Linked DNA regions of Homo sapiens. The protein of the gene in region 1 purifies or fractionates together with the protein of each later gene. This does not show direct contact. Each region holds a gene or a part of one and is shown in the gene's direction. Other genes may lie near its edges.

What was found. Proteins that work in one complex are often made in the same cells at the same time.
Region 2: the proteins of HK1 (region 1) and CAPN2 fractionate together in Homo sapiens (co-fractionation; one large-scale study listed by BioGRID). This does not show direct contact.

Annotation. Positions count from the first base shown.
Region 1 is NC_000010.11:69,325,347-69,328,846, forward strand, and holds part of HK1 (hexokinase-1), read left to right. Parts: intron 1-3,500. UniProt on the Homo sapiens protein: Catalyzes the phosphorylation of various hexoses, such as D-glucose, D-glucosamine, D-fructose, D-mannose and 2-deoxy-D-glucose, to hexose 6-phosphate (D-glucose 6-phosphate, D-glucosamine 6-phosphate, D-fructose 6-phosphate, D-mannose 6-phosphate and 2-deoxy-D-glucose 6-phosphate, respectively).
Region 2 is NC_000001.11:223,750,539-223,754,038, forward strand, and holds part of CAPN2 (calpain-2 catalytic subunit), read left to right. Parts: intron 1-351; coding exon 352-437; intron 438-1,458; coding exon 1,459-1,533; intron 1,534-2,257; coding exon 2,258-2,418; intron 2,419-3,500. UniProt on the Homo sapiens protein: Calcium-regulated non-lysosomal thiol-protease which catalyzes limited proteolysis of substrates involved in cytoskeletal remodeling and signal transduction. Proteolytically cleaves MYOC at 'Arg-226'.

The DNA of each region.
Region 1 (3,500 bases):
GGCCATGTATTTTCTTATTCTTTTTTTTTGAGATGGAGTTCTGCTCTGTTGCCCAGGCTGGAATGCAGTGATGTGATCTCGGCTCATTGCAACCTCTGTCTCCTGGGTTCAAGCGATTCTCCTGCCTCAGCCTCCTGAGTAGCTGGGATTACAGGCACCAGCCAATGCTCCTGGCCTGCATTTTTTTTTTTTTTTTTGAGATGGGGTCTCACTCTGTATCCTGGGTTGGAGTGCAGTGGTGTGATCTCAGCTCACTGAAACCTCCATCTCGCGGGTTCAAGTGATACTTCTGCCTCAGTGCCCCCCCCTGCCCCCCAGTAGCTGGGATTACAGTCGCCTGCCACCATGCCCGGCTAATTTTTGTATTTTAAATAGAGACTGGGTTTCACCATGTTGGCCAGGCTGGTTTCAAACTCCTGACCGCAAGTGATCTGCCCGCCTTGGCCTCCCGAAATGCTGGGATTACGGGTGCCAGCTACTGCCTCTGGACTGCATTTTTTTTTTTTGAGACAGAGTCTTACTCTGTCGCCTGGGTTGTAGTACAGTAGCACGATCTCACCTCCCTGCAACCTCTGCCTGCCAGGTTCAAGCGATTCTTCTGCCTCAGCCTCCCTAGTAGCTGGGATTACAGGTGCCTGCCACTACACCCAGCTAATTTTTTGTATTTTTTGTAGAGACGGGGTTTCACCGTGTTGGCCAGGCTGGTCTTGAATTCCTGACCTCGTGATTCACCCGCCTCGGCCTCCCAAAGTGTTGGGATTACAGACGTGAGCCACCGCGCCTGGCCGCTTTTTTTTTTTTTAATGGCTTTTTGTCTCTGGGCATCCTGGAACACTTCGTGAGTGTCATGTCGGGTATGAATTATATATATATGTAATTGAGATTACACTATAAATGTTTCTGCACACAACTATACTAACATATGTGTAGGTGTGTGTATGCTTTCATATGCTCTTTCAAAAGCCTCAGCGAGGTTGTCAGTACAGGAAGTATTATTCCCGGGCTTCCCAGCACGGCTCCCTCCCCAGGGCATCCTGCTGCCTGCCTTGTGTGTTGCAGACAGAAGGCAAGCAATTTATTCCCCATTTAGAAACAGAGACTGAAGGCCCATCCAGAGGAGATAAAACATTTTTCTAAGGTCGAAAGAAAATCAGGAATAGGATTCAGAGGGCTCTTCTTGCTTCCTCTGTTTCCTTCTTTTAGGAGAAAAACCTGTCCTTGTTGATTTTAATGTTTTACCTTGGAACCTGTATTTTAATACTGTCCCCTCACAAATCAATACATTTGAGTTAATTTTTTATTATGAAATATTTGAGGCACATAAAAGAAGATTGAGGTTCACATAAACACCTCTGAGTCTGCTACTCAGCTTGAGAAGTTATAGACACAATTACAATTACATTACAGACACAGTTGAAGCCCTTTCTATGCCATCTCTGAGATAGTTTGCTGCTTCTCCCTTCGGAGGTGACCTCTGTCCTGAATTTGGTGTTTATCTTTTCATGCATGTTTTTACGCTTTTATTACATATGCATATGTCTATAAACAGTATATGGTATTGCTTTATAGATATATGGTTTTGATCTTTTGTAAATGGTGCTATACTGACTATGTGTTTAAGCAATATATGGTATTGCTTTGTGTGGTTTTAAACTTTTTTTTTTTTTTTTTTTTTTGAGATGGAATCTCATTTTGTTGCCCAGGCTGGAGTGCAGTGGCACGGTCTCAGCTCACAGCAACCTCTGCCTCCTGGGTTCAAGCAATCCTCCTGCCTCAGCCTCCTGAGTAGCTGAGATCATACCTGGCTAATTTTTTTGTATTTTTAGTAGAGACGGGGTTTCACCATGTTGGTCAGGCTGGTCTCAAAATCCTGACCTCAAGTGATCCACCTGCCTAGGCCTCTTTCCAAAGTTCTGGGATTATAGGCCTGAGCCCCCACACTCAGCCAGTTTTAAACTCTTATAAATGGTGCTATACTGTATGTATCCTTCCGCCATTTACTTTCTTTTAGCTCAACATTGTATTTTTGAGATTTTAAAAATGTTGATCTACGTAACTGTTTCATTAAACTGCTCTGGTTTCTTACAGAGTATAAAAGCTCCCTAGTTAATTCATCTATTCTGCTTTTGATAGGCATTTGTGTTTCTAATGTTTCAAGTGACAAACAATGCCTTGGTGAACTTTCTCTAGAACAACTCATTCAGCGCATGCACAAGTTTCTCTAGGCTCTAAGCTGTGTACCTAGGGCTGAGATCACCAGGCGGAGAGATGTGTGCGTTTTCCCATATACGAGATTCTGCCAAGTTGCCATCCGTGGTCATGCCAGTTCACACTCCCATCGGAAGTATGTGCAGGTTGCCTTTGTTCCACACCAACCCTTGTTATGGTCAAACCTTTGCAAATTTGTAATAGATGAGTTTTAGTCTGTTTCCTTCCTCAGTTGTTTCCATTCACATCACAGTATTCGAGCTGTGTTTAAAATTAGCCCATTTCCTGAGTTACCTTATCAGAGTCCTTGCTTCAGAGTCCCACGGACTGAAGTTGACAGCTCCATGGACTGCTGCTGCTGAGATATCTGCACTGGGGAGGGATAGTTGATGCAGGGAAAGGCTTAGGATGGCTCTCCATGGCCCCTGGTGCTGTGGGCTGACTCCGTTAAGCTTTTCTGGGAGTTGAAACACACATTTGTGAGCTTTCACTTGCACACACTTTCTCTCTTCCCGGGTGGATCCGACCCGGGTAGGGCAGGCTTATCTGTTGCGTAAATGTGCCCAGCTCTGCTCAGAGAAAACTCAAGCCAGCAGCCTCTCAGACCGTCTTCCGTAAAAGGAGAGGGTGGCTGTACCCACGTGGCAGGGAAAACTGAACCGTGAAGTCGGCGGCTCAGCCCTTTGCACACAGAAGCTGAGCTGTCCCTGTGCGAGGCAGAAAATGTCGGCTCATGTTCATCTTGAGTCTATGCCTGATTACAGGCTCCAGACTCGGAGACCTCGAGGGTGCCTTACAGGGAAGGGGGCATTCAGTGCCTACTAGGCGCCCGGCTTTTCTTTTTCTTAGCAGGGGTCTTATTTAATCATTTCTAGTACTCATATGAACCAAAGCCAACATTCATTGTTGTATTCATTGCCATGTACTGTGCTAAAGGCATCGTGAGCCTTTGCTTAGTTCATCCCCACAACGCCCTTGTGAGGTGGGTGTGATTTCAGACGGTGAGGCCCAGATAGTGAACGATAGAGCCAGCATTCAGCCTCATCAAGGCTGATGGCAGAGCTCCTGCTTTTATTATTTTCTCAATTGAGTTATAATTCACCTACCATGAAACGCATCATTGTACAGTGTACAATTCAGTGGTTTCTAATAGATTTACAAGGTTGTCCGAGCACCATCACCATCTAATTCCAGAATATTTTCATCACCCTCCGAAAAAAACTACCCGTTAGCAGTCACTTCCCATTTCTTCCTCCACCTAGCTTCTGGCAACCACTATCTACCTTTTTTTT
Region 2 (3,500 bases), on another chromosome or scaffold:
CAGTGATCTTTCAACAAATGGTAAAGCTTCTCTGAGCTCCTTTACCAAAAGCGCATCCTGTCAGTTAAGCTGAAGTTCAGAGATGAAGCACCAACAGCCCCATCCTCGAGAGCCGGATCCTGGGAGCTTTAAATCTCATTTTCCAAAGCTAGGCAGCAGTGAGAGGTCTGGGTGCCAAGCCCCCTCTAGCTCTTGTGATCCTCCCTCATACATGGACTCAACCCCCAAATCCTCCCCACCGTCCTCAGCCCCATACCTCCTGGCTCATGCGGAAGGGGGTTGGAGGCCCAAGCCTTCATAGCCCTGACTTGAACTCAACCTCTTACTCCTCCCTTTTATCTAATCCTGCAGGTTGAAAGTAACGGAAGCCTACAGAAACTGATCCGCATCCGAAATCCCTGGGGAGAAGTGGAGTGGACAGGGCGGTGGAATGACAAGTGAGGAGGGCGCAGGCCTCGGGGCCCCAGGCGGGGGTGCATTGTGCTGGGAGGCTCTGGGAAGAGGGCGAGAGAAGAAGACATGTGCATTATTCTGAGAAATATAGCCAGGAGAGCCCAGGCCACGTGGACAGGGACCCGTGGACAGGGGCCCCTCAAAGGGTCTTTTAACCAGGACACTCCTCCAGCAGCCTGAGTGCCTTCTTCCAGGCCCCAAGCTGCTCGTGTGAAGTTCATTCCTGCCACTGCCTCCAGGTTCACCCCTTCCCTAGCTCAAATCCACCCTTCTATGGGGCTTTCAGGGAAAAAAATACACCCCACCTTCCCCCAGGCACTTCTATTACAGGGATGTGAACTTTGTACCAAAGGCCAGAGAAACATCCCTCTGTTGATTTCCAGGGCTTACTGGTAGGCATGTTGAACCCTCAACTATTTGGGGTAAACACTTGTTTGTACATCTGCTGTGGCAACCTCAGCCTACTTGCTCTGCCTCAGGTTGGAGAGGTGGGCAGTACAGAGGCCTGTGTGTAATTCCAGCCAAAGCTCAGGCAGTGGTTAGTTTACCCTGTGCACTGCCCCTGTGTACAGGGCCAGGTCCTTCTGCTCCGTGGACAGAGAGACACCTGCTGAGGCTTCCCAGGCCTCAGCCGGAGGCTCCTCATCAGATCTTCAGTTGTCTCTAAAAGAGCTGCCAGGCCCATCTCAATTGGGCAACTGCTCTGAGCTACTCCATCTCCCTCTAATGAACTATGTTCATTTTCTGGACTCTTCCTTGCCACTGTCTTCCAGCACAACTCACCCGCTCACTTTGCTCCCTGGTTTGCATCTGTATAGTGTTCTATACTCTTTAAAGTGCTGTAAGAGTATTAAAATGCAGCTGTTAGCCAGATGTGGGCTACTTTCCCCCTTTCTGGAGCCTGAGCCCTCAGAGGTGAGAGCAGATGTCCCTCTTCCTCAACTCTGGGGCCTTTGGGGAGAAATCATCGTACACTAACGCCTCTCTCTTTACTTTGTTTTCCAGCTGCCCAAGCTGGAACACTATAGACCCAGAGGAGAGGGAAAGGCTGACCAGACGGCATGAAGATGGAGAATTCTGGTAAGATTAGTGGAGGCTTCAGGGAAAGCTCTGTCTGCCCCAATGTTCTTTACTAGAAAACTGCTAATTAGAAAGAGTGTCGGCCAAAGTGAGTTTACCATGTCGAGGACACAAGCGTGTGGGATCCTGGTTTTGTTATTTTAAGTTCACTATAAGAGCCTGAATAAAGAAATTCTTAAGCCCCTTCAACGGTCCATCTTGACAATGGGGTTTATAAGCTGAGCAGCTTCAGAAAAAGGCTAAGAGGAATTCCTTTGGTAATGTTCAGATCCCAGGAAACAAGGGAAAGATGGGGCCTTTCTCCCCCAGGTTCCGGAGACTCATCCCAGCCCCTTAAGAAACTGGTCCCTTAGTGAGCAGCAATGGACCCACATGTCTGTGTGTCTGCGCCACTCTATAACCACCTGCACCTGGACACAACATGCTCTTTATCAAATGGGGCCCATATATTGTCACATTTGATGGGCACGGCTCCCATTTTTGCAGGTGAGAGTTCTGAGCTTCAGAGAAGTTTAAGTAACCTGCTCAAAGTCACCCAGCTAGAAAGTTGCAGCGCCAGGACTGGAATCTGGGCCTTCTGATTCTGAACCTGGTGCCCATCCACTCAGTTCTAATGAGCTGCTCTGCCTGGCTTTGGGTGGCTCCTGGTCTGGTGTTGGTGGAAAGTCAAGGCTTACCAGTGTGTCTTCTTATCACCTGTGATGATTGTCTCTGCTTTTGCCAGGATGTCTTTCAGTGACTTCCTGAGGCACTATTCCCGCCTGGAGATCTGTAACCTGACCCCAGACACTCTCACCAGCGATACCTACAAGAAGTGGAAACTCACCAAAATGGATGGGAACTGGAGGCGGGGCTCCACCGCGGGAGGTTGCAGGAACTACCCGAGTAAGGGCTGTTGCATATAAGGGCTGTTGCAATGCGGGGCCACCAAAGGCCAAAGCTCCCCTTACCCCACCCTGTGTACCACACCCCAGCCTAGCAGCCCCAGGAGGCAGCTCCTGCTCACTGGAACCCTCTCTGTCTTCTTTCTCCCTGAGCCTTTTCTTTTCCCTGAGCCTTTTCTCCCCGAGCTCTCTTTCTCAATCCCTTACCTCCTGCCCTACCCAGGACAAACCCAAGAGCCACTGTTTCTGTGATGTCCTCTCCAGGCCCTAGATTCCCCAGCGCCCATCATGACCTTCAGCCTGACCTTCCGCCATGCTCACGGAAGCAGTGCTCAATCCCACTTCACGGCCATGAGCTGCTCTATGCACCCCACACCCAGGCAGCCGAGCCTACAAGGGAACCTTGTCCCGGCACCCAGGGAGCCCTCCACATATCAGGCCCTGTTTGTTGCCCCATACTCACTTCAATCAGCAAATGTTGACTGGGCGCTGCCCAGATGGGGTGAAGATTTCTCCTCTGGTCCAGCCTTTGTTGAGCCCCTTGATTCTTCTGCCTTCATGGCTTAGTCCGTCAGCAGTTGTCTGAACATGATGACATCTGCCAATTATGGGGCACACCTTCAGTGCTTGGAACTATCCTAAGTGTTTTGTACACAGGGTGAGGATCCATAATCTGAAAATGTGAAATCTGAAATGCTCCAAAATCCAAAACTTTTTCAGCCCCAACATGATACCACAGGTGGAAAATTCGACACTTGACCTCAGGTGACAGGTCGCAGTCAAAACACAGTCAAAACTTTGTTTCATGCACAAAATTATTTTAAATATGCTATAGAATTACCTTCAGCCTATGTGTATAAATTATATATGAAACAGAAATGAGTTTTGTCATTAGACTTGAGTTCCATCCCTAAGATATGTTATGTATATACAAATATTCCAAAATCCAAAAAAATCCAAAATAGGAAACACTTCTGGCCCCAGGAATTTCAGATAAGGGATATTCAGCCTGCATAACATTCTATCTAACCTTCCCAACAAACTTCTGAGGCAGGCACTTTCTTATCACCTCCATCTCTAAGA